Linked DNA regions of Homo sapiens. The protein of the gene in region 1 interacts with the protein of each later gene in a biochemical or structural test. Each region holds a gene or a part of one and is shown in the gene's direction. Other genes may lie near its edges.

Evidence for each region.
Region 2: the proteins of TRIM40 (region 1) and ROCK1 form a complex in vitro, tested with the Homo sapiens proteins (one study listed by BioGRID).

Annotation. Positions count from the first base shown.
Region 1 is NC_000006.12:30,131,374-30,139,141, forward strand, and holds the start of TRIM40 (E3 ubiquitin ligase TRIM40), read left to right. Parts: upstream 1-4,766; 5' UTR 4,767-4,816; intron 4,817-5,038; exon of another isoform or gene 5,039-5,359; 5' UTR 5,360-5,663; coding exon 5,664-6,008; intron 6,009-7,768. UniProt on the Homo sapiens protein: E3 ubiquitin-protein ligase that plays a role in the limitation of the innate immune response. Mediates inhibition of the RLR signaling pathway by ubiquitinating RIGI and IFIH1 receptors, leading to their proteasomal degradation.
Region 2 is NC_000018.10:21,003,805-21,010,834, reverse strand, and holds part of ROCK1 (rho-associated protein kinase 1), read left to right. Parts: intron 1-2,640; coding exon 2,641-2,776; intron 2,777-4,044; coding exon 4,045-4,136; intron 4,137-4,237; coding exon 4,238-4,484; intron 4,485-7,030. UniProt on the Homo sapiens protein: Protein kinase which is a key regulator of the actin cytoskeleton and cell polarity.

The DNA of each region.
Region 1 (7,768 bases):
TCAATAGGGATAGTAATACCAAGCTGGCATCGGGCCTCAGGGAGGTTACAGGATCTGCATAGTGCTAACAACTGTGCATCGGTAGAATGGGAATCTGAATCCGGACACTCCGCCTGTGAAGTCCACGTAGCTCCACCTCGCTGCACTAAGATAGAGTAGATCTCCTTTTATGGATGATCAAATAAGTGAGAGGGAACCCAGGAGCCAGTGGAGAGGAGAATTTTAAGGAGGGGACTGCTGATGATCTAAAGTTTGAGTCATCAGTTTGGATGTGAACTGAGAAAATACCGCTGGGATTTGAGTTTAGGACTTAGTTGGAGACCCTTAGAGAGTGGTTTAGGGTGCCCAGCCCTGGGATAGGCATAGGAGAGTATGGAAAGACAGAAAGACATAGTCCTATCCCTCATGAAGCTAAATGTGAGCCAAAGCCAGGGAAGTTGGCAAAAATCAAATGGTAATAAATGAGACGGTGATTTAGGAAAGAGAGATCCATGTAGAACCTGCAGGCCCCTCTGACACCTTTGTGAAAATTAGGATGGATCAGTTCACTTTCTTGGGGCCATTGCTGCCCTGAGCCAGAGCCCACAGCTTGGCAAGCAACCTCTGGGCTAGGTCTCAGCCCCCATTCATCAGAATGAAGACTGACTTGTTAGGAAAGTTTCATTCAGGAAACTGGGACTTGAGCTGGGCTTCCACTGATGTGAAGGGTTTGGAGCAGCTGTGTGAAAGAGGTAGGAGTTAGGTCTTCCCTGCTGGGAAATGTCAAAACAGAGGCAATTAAGAGTCATAAAGGAGAGAGAGAAGACAAAAATCACCTGACTCTTGGCTCCAGTATTTTTAAAGCATGAGAAATTAGATAAGATCACTCCTTTAAAACAGTTACTGAGCACCTAATATATTCAAGGAGCTATGCCGAATAGGCTGACTCAGGGAAATAAGGACCCTGACAGTTGCGCATTAGTTTGTAGTTTATGAAGCACATCCATTTCCAGCTATGACATTTTGTCCACTTTCTTGTAAAGGAGGCTGAAGTTGTGGCTGCCCCTGAACATGAAGCTACAAATCTCCACAATTAGGACCATAATCCAGATTCTTTGACTAGTCCAGAATTCCTTTCATTCTGACCATCCTCTTCTTAAACATTTTAAAATTTAGGTAATTGTTTAGATAGATGGCACATTTGCTGGCTCAAAATTTTAAAAACACAGGAAAAAGTCTCCCTCTTGCCCCTGGTTTCCACACATCTAGTTTCTCTCTCCAGAAGCAAATTTTACTAGTTCATTGATATATTCTTCCAGAGATGTTCTTTGCATAAAAAGCAAATAAGAATATTTATTCTTCCCCGATTTGTGCAAATAATAGCATATTATACACACTGTTCTGTACCTTGCTTTTAAATTTAATTTATTTTTATTTTTTAAAATCAGTAATCTATGTGTCCAAAGCATAAACCAGGCATGGGCATAGACCAGAAGCCAAGCTGGGATAAACAGGGGGTTGCTTTGTTCCTGTCTGATGTGAGATGGGCACCATTAAGCTTTTTTTTTTTTTTTTTTCGAGACAGAGTCTGGCTCTGTCATCCAGGCTGGAGTACAGTGGCGCAATCTCGGCTCACTGCAAGCTCCACCTCCCGGGTTCACGCCATTCTCCTACTTCAGCCTCCCGAGTAGCTGGGACTACAGGCACCCGCCACCATGCCCGGCTAATGAGACAGGGTTTCACCATGTTAGCCAGGATGGTCTCGATCTCCTGACCTCGTGATCCACCTGTCTCGGCCTCCCAAAGTGTTGGGATTACAGGCGTGAGCCACCATGCCTGGCCAAGCTTTTTTTTTTTTAATGTATCAATTTATGTTGGAGATTATTCCAATAGCAAAAGTTCCCTTCCACACCCCACCCCCTACTAATGGCTGCACAATGTTCTATTGTATGAATGTAGCTAGTTTATTTAGCTTAACTTCCGTTGATGAACATTTGTTTTTTTTCTAAAATTTGAAGCAAATGTTTCTAAAACATTGATGCAATAGGTATATGCATATATTATTTCACATATGCATGAATATATATGTAAAATTTCTAACATCAGAATTGCTGGCTCAAAGAGAATGTACATTTGTAATCTTGGAGGAAATTCTCAAATTCCTACTCCTCTAAAGGAGGAGTACTAATTGGCATTCCCATCAGCAGTGTATGGGAGTGCCAATTTCCTCACACACTTACCAACACTGTGTTACCAAATGTTTGGATTTCTGTCAATCTGATAGGAAAAATAGTATGTCAGTGTTATTTTAATTTGTATTTTCTTCATGAGATTGAGATTATCTTTTAATATGCTTTAGAGACATTTGGTATTTCTTTTTCTATGAAATGTCTGCTGAGATACCTCTGCCCAATTTTCTTCTTGGTAGTTGATAAATTCTTATTTGCAAGAGCTGTATATAAAAGGTAATTAGCCCTTTGATTTTGATGGCAGTTGTAAATATTTTTCTTCTTCCAATGGTATTTCGTCATTTGTCTCTTGACATTGCACTTACGGTTTTTTTTCCCCCATGCAGGTCTTTTTTAATGTGGCTGAATTTATCTTTCTTTCCTTTTATGGTTTCTACATTTGAAACATTCTCAAGCTACTGCTAGTTAAATACAGTGGATTTCTGCCTTCAAGTTGCTCAATAAACCAGTAGGAAAATCAAGAAAAGTACCTAAGTAACTAGTAGAAGTTACTATATAGTCAGTACTATAAGTTGGTACAAAGTGCTGTTTCTTCATCTGTCTATCCATACATCTAATTATCAATCTATCTTTCCATCTGTCCATTAATCCATCCATTTATCAAGCTTTTACTGAATCCTTTCTAAGAGCAAGAAAAGGTATATATAGAGAGATGACATTTTATGGTAATGAAGCCCATGGGCTGGGATAAGAGACACCCAGATCTGAATCCCAGCTCTATGTTTACACCACTGTGGCCTTGGGCAGGTTACTTAATCTGTCCACATTTTTGTTTCTTATACTATTTCATGAGATACGACAGGAACGTAGATTGTGGAGGGGTCAAGGATTGAAGGTTAAAAAACAGACATTGTCGGAAATGCCTTAGGAAGAGAACTATAAGTGAGTACAATGCCTACATTTATAATTTCAGGTGGTGAAATCTGAATCCTGACAAGGTCAAGAGAGTGGCCACTAGGGTGGGTGGCAAAAGCAAAGGTCATTGGATGTGAGCAGGACAAGAACTGAAAGGCCTTGGTGTTAAATGATCATGTACATAGTCTTTGAAATCACCAGGATCATGGTAATTTCACAGCCAGATGAAGGGCAAGTTCTGGGAGGATCCTGAGCACAGGAGCTTCTGTCCCCGGTGGAGTGTGGGATGTGCCACCCTCCCAGCATGTGGATGCACTCACCAACCTGGAATCTCTCCAAACCTCTTTGTTCAGGATCTTACAGAGGTTCCATTATTTAGGTATGATTGATCAAATCACTGGCTGTTGGTGATTAACTCAGTCCCTGGGCTCCTCTCCCCTCCCCAGAGGTCAGAGGTGAGACTGAAAGTTCCAACCAGCCAGGCGTGGTGGTTCACGCCTGTAATCCCAGCATTTTGGGAGGCCAAGGCAGGCAGGTAACCTGAGGTCAGGAGTTCGAGACCAGCCTGGCCAACATGGTGAAACCCCGTCTCTACTAAAAATACAAAATATTAGCTGGGCATGGTGGTGTGCACCTGTAATCCCAGCTACTCGGGAGGCTGAGGCAGGAGATTCGCTGGAACCTGGGAGGCAGAGGTTGCAGTGAGCTGAGATAGTGCCGTTGCTCTCCAGCTTGGGCAACAAGAGTGAAACTCTGTCTCAAAAAAAAAAAAAAAAAAAGAAAGAAAGAAAGAAAGATCCCACCCTCTAATCACATGGTTCTTCTGCCAACCAGCCCCCATTCTTCCTCCAAGAGTCACCTCATTAGCATAAACCCTGGTATGGTTGAAAAGGGCTTATTATGAATAATAAAAGATACACTCATCAGAACATAACCATGTGGTAAGTTGAGGTGCATCAGGAATTAAGATGATTCAACTTAAAATTTTTGACTTTATGATGGGTTTACTGGGGTATTGAGTACACTTTCACCTTACAATATTTCTGACTTCAGTGAATTCACTGGGACGTAACCCCATCATAAGTTAAGGATCATCTGTTCAAGGGTTTTAGGAGCTCTGTGCCAAGACTAATTATATATATATCTCACAAGATCACACAACCCACAGCAAACAGTGGCAAAGTGGGATTGAGGGAGGAGGCTCTGAAATGAGGTTTTCAACAAGCGTCTTGGACCCTTAGAAGTTTCAAGTGACAGCCCTTATTAGTGGCACCCCTTAGGGGCTCCCTCAAACTCAATGCCAAGACTAGCCTGACTGGAGGGAACTTAGACAATGGAGTGGGCATTTGATGTTCCAGCATCTTGAGTGGGTGCCATTATTCTGTGACACCTGGATCCTGGGGTTCCATAAGCTGGGGTTCTAGGATGTCCATTCTTAGTTGAGTCTCATTTCCTGTCATATCGACGTCAAAGGCCCAAGACCTTCCTCCTCCCCTTGAGCAAACAAGCCACGCCCTGCACCAAAGTCCATCTCACCTTCCAGCTACCCTAGGTAATTTTCCTGGTAATTCAGTGTTTCTAGGAAAGCATGAGTCTTTCCACCCCCCGCCCTGAGATTTACTGACATATGAACACATATGATTGGCATGATATAAGAACCACTCATCTGCTGGCCATCTCTCCAGGTCTGGAGCCAGAGAAGATGATCTGAAATTGTAGCAGGAGAAATTGAGGTAGGATACTAAGAAAGCTTTTCAGGAGTGGGGCTAGGCAAGAGGTGCAGCATGAGGGAATAAGAGTGAATCCTCAGTATCTAAGGGAGGTGGCAGGTGGCGGGGGACTTCTTTCTTTGGGTCATCTTTGGTGGTGATTTGACAGGAAGGAACAAAGTGGCTTCAAACATTATACAAGTCTCTAGTCTGTTCTGTGTCCTGTTTTCTTTCTCATTCTTTCAGTGTGGAATCTATATGACCCTGGGAGGGATGTTGGTTGGAAGAATGACCAGCTGATGGAGATGCTGCTGTAATTATTGGTGGTAATAATGGGCAGCAGTGAGCCACCCGGTGTGACAGTGTAGGAGAAAACAGTCCAAACTCCTGCCAAACTCTCTCTACTGATGGCAAATCAGAGGAGACTCAAATTGTAAGTTTATAGTGGTCTGGCTTTTGGCCATGACAATGACACCTTGCCCTTTTAATTTGGGGCCCGTGCAAATATTCACTGAAAGCTGTCAAGAGGAAAACAGAATTGGTTATTGAATCACTTGCTTCCTCTAGGTGTATGAAAAATAATTTCAAGTTTAACAAACACAAGGAAACCGCAGGGTCCATGTCAAAGCTGATGAGCTATTTCTGAAACTCGTGCAGAATTGTGGTTTGTGTGGTCTATGTCACGGCACCCTTGAGGGAGAGTGGGCAATTGCCTGAACTTGGAGGCTGTGTCCTGTCCCCAGGCTGCTCCAGGGCTGCCTCCTTCCGACTGGGCCTTCTTATCTGGGACTGTTGAGGGCAACAGGCCTTCCGAAGACCAGTGAAGAAGGAGGCCCTGCAAACAGGAGGCTGACAGGGTAGGAACGAGGCCATGATCCCTTTGCAGAAGGACAACCAGGAGGAGGGTGTCTGCCCCATCTGCCAGGAGAGCCTGAAGGAGGCCGTGAGCACCAACTGCGGACATCTCTTCTGTCGAGTGTGCCTGACACAGCATGTGGAGAAGGCCTCAGCCTCTGGGGTCTTCTGCTGCCCCCTCTGCCGGAAGCCCTGTTCTGAGGAGGTGCTAGGGACAGGCTATATCTGCCCCAACCACCAGAAGAGGGTGTGCAGGTTCTGTGAGGAGAGCAGACTTCTTCTATGTGTGGAATGCCTGGTGTCCCCTGAACACATGTCTCATCATGAACTGACCATTGAAAATGCCCTCAGCCACTACAAGGTAAGCCTGGGTCACCGCAGCCAGGCCCTGCCTCCACCTCGCTGAGGTGCTGCATCCTACATGTTCATCATGCCTGGCACCTCAGAGTAGCTCAACAATGGACATCTCTCTTTGTTTCTTCTGCTTCATCCTGTTTTGGACCCTTGTCTTGCTTTTCTGTGTATATTTTGAGGCTGATGTTTCCATGCATTAATGTGAGTCTGTCTAAAAGAGGATATTGTCAGTGTGATGTTAGAGTCCCAGTCTGCTCATCTGTAGAATAGAGTAATTGGACTAACTAATGCAAAACCCTTTCAGGACTAAAACTGTGTGAACTCCTGGTTGATAGTACTAGAAACTTGGCTAGAAATGTAATCAGGTTTTATATACACTAGTAATTATCCTGCAAATATATTAAAACCTGAAAGTTACTACATAATTTTTTCTCTCTTTTTCTTCCTTCTGCATTTGTCTTATCTTTCCTTTTCCTTTCTTTGCTATGGCAATTATTTTATCTTATTCTGTTAAATTTTCTATCACAAAAGTTACATGCTGTAGGTAATAAATTCAGAAAGCACTGAAAGGTATAAAGTCAAGACTAAAAATTTGTCTTCCTTTCTCCCTCCATTCATAGTCCTCAGAGGTAACCATTGTTTGATTTTTGTACATCCTTCCAAAAAATGTGTGTGCTTATGAATGCACTCTTACACACACACACACACACACACACCCTCAAAGGATTCTCTCTATATTTTTTTCTGTAACTCATTTTTGTTATCTAAAAGTGTGGCTTGAACATTTTCTCATCAGCATGTATAGATCTTCTGAATTATTTTCAAGAACTGTGTGGTATTAAATTCTATGAATGTACCATAAATTGGCAGACATTGGGTCATTTCCAAGCTATTGTTTTGTTTTAAGATTACACAGAACGTTCTAATGAATATCCTTCAACATATATATTGGAGGACCTAGAATATCCAAGATATATTTTGGTGAGAGCATAAGGTAGAAATCTAACTTTAGTTTTTCCAAGTTATAATCAATTTGTCCTATCACCATTTGTTGAATGATTCATATAGTTTCCCCATTGATTTGAATGCCAATGTCATAATATACCATATATGCATATTTTCTTGCATACTGCCTTGATTCTTTGTGCTGTTCTATTCTGTCTATGCTTGCCTATAAGCCAAGGTATTTTAGAGATTTTATCCTTACCATATATTTTAATGTCAGGTATTTTGATAGAATCCTCACAATACTCTTATTTTTCAGAATTCGTGCAGATATTTGTATATCTTTATTTTGCCAATTAGCTTTGGAATTATTTTTATCAACCTTTCCCCTGACCCTAATCCAGTTAGTATTTGACTGGACAATTGACAATATTTTCACATGGCATCCTTCTATCCAATAGTGAAGGCTGAACTTCCAAAGCTGAGGTAGCTTTGAGATACTTGACTTTTGGAGAACATGTTATGATACAGAATGAGAAAGTGGGGAGTCCAGATTAAAAGTGACTACAGAAAGGTAGAGAAATAATTGAAAAAGCCAGAGGCAAAGTTCTATTTGGTTCTAACATCATTCCCTCCAGGTGCAATGTCCACAGGAGAGTGGGGAGGGATTCCTCACCTGCCGATGAAGCAGCATAAGATGGAGAAATTTATTTCCTCACTAAATGATTTTTTCAGGTCTGTCCTTTGTGTTAGATGTCATGCTAGGCATTGTAGAAAGTACAAAGATGATTCATAATTCTTGTTTCAAATCTGTCTTTAAAT
Region 2 (7,030 bases), on another chromosome or scaffold:
AGTTGATAAGACTGGAAGGTTAAATAGACCAATCCATAATTATTGTTGGAGACTTCAGCACCCGTAAGAATCACCAAACATAGGAGAACTCAACTACACTGTCAGCTGTCAGAATTTGTTCAACATTTACAGAACCCTCTGCTTAACAGCACAATATGCCTTCTTTTCAAGTGCTTAAGGAACACACACCAAGGTAGACCACATCCCAAGCTATAAAACAAACACATTTGAAAGCACTGAAATCATACAGTTTCCTGACCAAAATGTACAGATGAGAATAACAGAAAAATCTGCAAACACATGGAAAGCAAACAATAAACTTCTAAATAACCCAGAGGTCAAAGAAGAAGTCTCAGTGAAAAAAATACATTGGAATGTTAATTATGTCTCATAAAACTGTTATGGCTCTTTATCTTTACAAAATATTTGAACAATGAAGTGAAAATACATCATCAAAATTTGTGAGATGCTGTTAACATGGTGATGAAGGTTAATTTATAGCACTAAATGCTTACCTTAGAAAAGAGGAAAAGTCTAAAATCAATAATTTAAACTCCTACTTCTGGAAACTAGAATAAGAAGAGTGAAATAAACCCAAAACAAGCAAAAGGAAGGACAAGTAACGATAAGAGCAGAGAACAAGGCAGTTAAAAGCAGAAAAACAATAGAGAAAATCAGTGAAACAAAAAGCTGTGTGAAAAGATCAACAAAATTAACAAACCTCTAGCAAGACTGATAAAGGAAAAAGAGAGGACACAAATTACCAGTATGAGGAATGAAATAGGGCATATACTATAGACCATATAGGTATCAAAAGAATCATAAGGAAATCCTATGAACAGTTCTAAACACAATTAAGACATGTAGATGAAAGGGACTAACTTCTCAAAAATCAAACTATCACAACTCATACAGTGTGAAATAGGTAATTTCAGTAGCCCTATATAAGTGTTAAGGAAAGCGAATCCATACTTTTTAAACTTTTTAGATATATGGATGAAAATAAACCTATGAAAAGAGGTTCACATAATTAGTCATTTGGGAAGTGCAAATTAAAACTATCATGAAATATTACTCCATAACCATGAAAAAAAGTAAGTTTTAAAATTATGTCAATAGCAAACTGGCAAGGATATGGAGAAACTAGATCACTTGGACATTGCAGATGGGGATATAAAATGGTACAGACATTCTGGAAAACCAATTGGCTGTGTTCCTGAAAAACTAAACATGTGCCTACTATGTGACCTAGCAATTGTATTCTTGGGCATGTATTCCAGAAAAATGAAAATGTATATTCTCACAAAAACCTGTATACTAATGTTTATAACAGCTCTATTTGTAATAGCCAAAAACTGAAAACAATCAAAATGTCCTACAGTAGGTGAATGGTTGAACAAACTTCGGTACATTTGTACCATGGAATACTCAGCCACAAGAAGGAATAAACTGTAGATACATACAATACAGAGATGGATTTTAAGGTCTTTATGTTGAGTTAAAAAAAAAAAAAACCTGTCTTGGCCAGGCGCGGTGACTCACGCCTGTAATCCCAGCACTTTGGGAGGCTGAGGCGGGCGGATCACGAGGTCAGGAAATCGAGACCATCCTGGCCAACATGGTGAAACCCCATCTCTATTAAAAATACAAAAAAAAAAAAAAAAAAAAGCCTGTCTCAAAAAGTCATATATTGCATGGTTCCATTTATATAACATTCTCAAAAAGACAAAATTATAGAAATGGAGAACCATTAGTTGCCAGGAGTATGGGTGGTGGGAGGACGGGGATGGGTGTGGCTATAACTAGTGACTGGAAAGAAATTGTTGTGATGACCAGTTCTGTATCTTCGTTGTGGTGGTGCTTACATGAACCTACATATGTGATAAAATGAGAGAATCATACACTCCTTATACCAGTGAGAATTTTCTGATTTTGTTATTGTACTATTGTTATATATAATGTCTCTACTGGGGGAAGCTGAGTGGAAGGGCACTTGGGACCTCTCTGTACTATCTTTGCAACTTTCTTTGAATGTATAATTATCTAAAAATTAACTAAAAGTTAGAATGATAAACTCTTAGAATCAGAAAGACCTTGAATGATTTATGTCCAATTTCTGCTTAAAGATGAGAAAGCCCAGAAACACTGTAAAACAGGTTTCCTAATGTGGAGTCTTAAAAAGTGAAGCATCAAAAACAAGATTTACTGATAGTGGTAACTCAGAAAGGTACATTTTTAAGTTGTGAAAATTTGGGTATTTTAGGCTGGGCACAGTAGCTCATGCCTGTTATCCCAGTACTTTGGGAGGCTGAGGCAGGCGGATCACCTGAGGTCAAGAGTTCAAAACCAGCCTGGCCAACATGGCAAAAGCCGTCTCTACCAAAAATAGAAAAATTAGCTGGACGCAGTGGTGCGTCCCTGTAGTCCCAGCTACAGAAGACAGATTCCCACTGTCTTCTTAAAAGGCAAGCTACTTAGAAAGTTGTATTAGGAGATACTATTTGCGTTTGAAACAGAACATTCATCTTAAGTGTTTGTCTTTTTTTTTTTCTTGTTTTTTGTTTTTAAGAACAAAATACTCACTTGAATGAATGACCAGAGTATTAATCACAGTGGTAACTTTTATCATTATAATTCCAGGGAAATCAAAGAAGAAATCTAGAATCTACAGTGTCTCAGATTGAGAAGGAGAAAATGTTGCTACAGCATAGAATTAATGAGTACCAAAGAAAAGCTGAACAGGAAAATGAGAAGAGAAGAAATGTAGAAAATGAAGGTAAATTGTCACTACTTTTGAAAAATGATAGAATTTCTAACACTGTCATGAGGTTGTCTTTAATTTAGTGTCCATGATACATACATGAAGCTACAATCCTAAGACACTTTATAAGCTAAATAACCCAGGTCTCAGGTTAAATTTATAACATATTAAATAGTAATTAAATTAAATATTAAATTACATATTAAAGTAAATAGTAAGTAGCATTTAACTAGAGTAGTGATTGTCATCATGGTGTGCATACTGGAATCTCCTGGGAAGCTTTAAAGAGTACTGATGCCTAAATCCCAGCGATTCTAATTTAATTGGTCTAGATATGTGGCCTGAGTATCATTATTCTTTACAAGCCCCCTAGGTACTTCTAACAAGCAGCTGCGTCTAAGAACTTCTAAACCAGAATTTCTTGTGTTTTAATGCTTGTGTTACAAATATATTTAAAATACCTTTCTACTCCCATTGATGCAGTAATTTCACTTCCATAAGTTATTTCACGTACATACTCCTACTGCAAACTGATATATACACAAGGCTATTCATTGTAGCATTGTTTAAAATGACAAAAAAAATGCAGTCAATGCTGTATATGAAACATAATGTAATACATATATGAAACATAAAGGTAATGAATGCTGTAATAAATTTTAGTACATCTATATGGTAGAATACTATGTGGCTTATAAAAAATAATAAATCATCTCCTTAAATACGGTTATAAAACAGTCTCTAAGACAGATCTTTAAGTGACAGAAACGGATTGCTTGTGTTTAAAACAAGAGTACTTGTCTATATATGCTTAAATTAAATATATATTAGGGAGGAGAGCCAGTTAAGGGAGACTCAGAAGGGGCAAAAATGACTAAATGGAGAAAGGAGGACTTATTCTATACTATCTACCATTTGGTACCTTTTAAATTTTGTATTTTTATTAAGATATTGAATTATCAAGCAATTGAACTCTTGAAAAATAAATAATATTAAAACTAGCTTTATAAGTATACTATCAGTGATCTTATAAAGGGAATAAAGGAGTTTGAGATTTACAACAGTAAGAAGAAATCTTTTTGCACTCTGTATTAGAAGATAATGTTCTACTTTTTAATGAATTTAAAATGCAGGTACTTCCAAATTGGAATTTGGCTTTGGGAGTGGACCTAATGTAGCTGACTATTATGGCCTAAGACTAAATGTCTTTTTTTAAAAAAGGATTTATATGTTTCCCCTATGAAAATGTTGTAATTTCTATATATTATTCTTTCATTTTCTAGTTTCTACATTAAAGGATCAGTTGGAAGACTTAAAGAAAGTCAGTCAGAATTCACAGCTTGCTAATGAGAAGCTGTCCCAGTTACAAAAGCAGGTAAGTGTTTCAAATGAGGTTCCTTTTTAAAAAAATTGTAGATAATTAAATTATATCGTACTTTGGTCAGAAACCTATTTTTTTGCTTTCTTTTTAAATAGCTAGAAGAAGCCAATGACTTACTTAGGACAGAATCGGACACAGCTGTAAGATTGAGGAAGAGTCACACAGAGATGAGCAAGTCAATTAGTCAGTTAGAGTCCCTGAACAGAGAGTTGCAAGAGAGAAATCGAATTTTAGAGAATTCTAAGTCACAAACAGACAAAGATTATTACCAGCTGCAAGCTATATTAGAAGCTGAACGAAGAGACAGAGGTCATGATTCTGAGATGATTGGAGACCTTCAAGGTAATATTTTTTCTTATTGTGGTAAAATATACGTAACATGAAATTTATTATAACATTTTAACCATTTTTATATATACAGTTCAGTGGGATTAAATGCAGTTCACAATGTATGCAACCATCATCATATAAGTGGAATCATACAGTGTTTGTCCTTTTGCGTCTGGCTTTTTTCACTTAGCACAATGTCTTCAAGGTTTATCCATGTTGTGTGTGTCAGATTTTCCTTCCTTTTTAGGGCTCAGTAATATTCCATGGTATGTGTATACCACATTTTGTTCATCCACTCATCTATCAATGGAAGGAATATTTTATAATTTTTATTTTTAATTGTTAAAAATATATAACATAAAATTTACCATCTTGACCATTTTTAAGTCTAAGTTAATATATTTATGATCATATTACCCTCATAAAGAAAATGACTTTGGTGAAACCAGAAATGGTTGCATTCTTTTTTATTGTTTACGTTTTTTTGAGATAGGAACTTGCTCTGTTGCACAGGCTGGAGTGCAGCGGCATGATCACAGCTCACTGCAGCCTTGAACTCCTGAGGTCAAGCAATTCTCCCACCTCAACCTCCTGAGTAGCTGGGACTACAGGTGCATGCCACCATGCCCAGCTAATTTTTGCATTTTTTGTAGAGACGGGGTTTCACCATTTTGCCCAGGCTGGTCTCAAACTCCTGAGCTCAAGCGATCCGCCCACCTCGACCTCCCAAAGTGCTGGCATTATGGGTGTGAGACACCACACCAGGCCAGCATTCTTTCTCTTTTAGAATAATGCCCACATTTGTATCACATTGTAATTTCTTCACCCTCACAGGTACTCCTGCAGGGTATGTAATGTGGATATTTTTCAGTTTTACAGACAAATTAACCAAAAACTTCATTTAAAAACTTGCCTAATTCATAAAGGTTTTACTCAAAGTGAGACTAATCCAGGCAAAGAGGATTATCACTATTAAAACCTAGGAATTCCTCATGCATCGTTGGTAGTAATAGAAAGTCAGTTGCAGAAATAAAATCCCATTACACATTAAAAGTTAGATACTTGGGAATGTTTGAACTGGAGATATTGACAGTCTTTGTGAATCTAAGAGGCAGAAGATTGAGTATAACTAAGTGAATAAATGAACAGTTTTTAAATAGTAATAAAATTCAGTTTGTTTTCAAAAAGATTCCTGGCTTTACCTACTCACATATTTTTCTATTTTCTATTCCTGTTAGCAGCAGCATCCATACTACCTAATCAAAACAAATATGCATAGAAGTTGCCAGATGTCTCAGGAAAAAATTGGAGGGAGGAGTTCTTTTTAACCTTAGTTAGAGATGGGAACATAGTTTCAGGTCCCTTGGGGCTTGATGATTAGCTATAATTCAGTGGAGAGAGGTCAGGGTCAGTTTTTGTGACTAAGGAAACAGAAAATACAATCTCCTGTTGGTTCTTAGCTGAGGAGTGTTGTGCAATCATATTTCTCAGGGACCAGGCTTAAAATAGATCTGATTATAACTAAGAAAGTAACCACTTTATATGTAATAGGAAAGTCACAGACTTCCTTAAATTGTTTTCCTAGGCCTTTTTATACAGCTTATTAGCTGTTTGAAAGTCTCTTCATCTCCCTTCTTTATCTGTAAACCAAGGAGATAAGAATAGGTTACCTCTATAAATCCTTCCAATTCTAAAATTCTTATAAGTTTGTGATCTGTGTTTGACTGAGCTTTAAGCTCCTTGCTTCAGAGGCAGAGATCATCCATGTACTATCAACAGTGGTTTTTAACTGAATCTATTTTTTAGATATCAGTAAAAGTTAAGGAAAATTTATAGCATGATTTATTGTTAGTTTATTCTTTTTCAGAGTTTAATTTGGAACTTAAACGTGAATAAAAGCTCACATACACTAAAATAATGCACACAACTTATGTGAGTTTCAACATACATATAAAAGTGCATTGTGGGTTTTTAAAAAAATCACAATGCTTATATTAGTCTTTTCTGGTCTTTAAGAACTTTCAGGTCTCTCAAGTATAAATTTAGTTTGGGATGGTGGGCTTCTGGCAGAGTCTTGATTGTTATTCATTAATTGAATGTCCTCCATATATGATCTCTGTTGCATAGTCTTTTTTATTTTTTACTTTTTATAACCTTTTAAAGTATAAAAACCATTCTTAGCTTGACATCTGTACAGAAACAGGCTGCAGCCCTGATGTTTGCCAGTACCTGGACTAGTGCAACAGTAAGGCTGCAATTGATTATAGGGAAAGTTTCCAAAAGTTCAGGCTATAGAGGCTTAATGAAAGTGATCAAAATGTTATGGAGGATTGAAATTTTAACTGAATTGATAAGCTTTCATCTAGTAAGTTTATCTCTGATTCTTCAGATTGAAAGGCAAAAATCAATTTTTTTAAATTAACCATTTTTAAAAGTCTTTTTCTGTTTTTTTTAATTGTTTGCTTGGAACCAGAAGTGCTTCAGATTTTGGATTTTGGGTGGTTTGTGAGAATATTTGCATTATGTATACTTACCAGTTGAGTATCCCAAATCTGAAA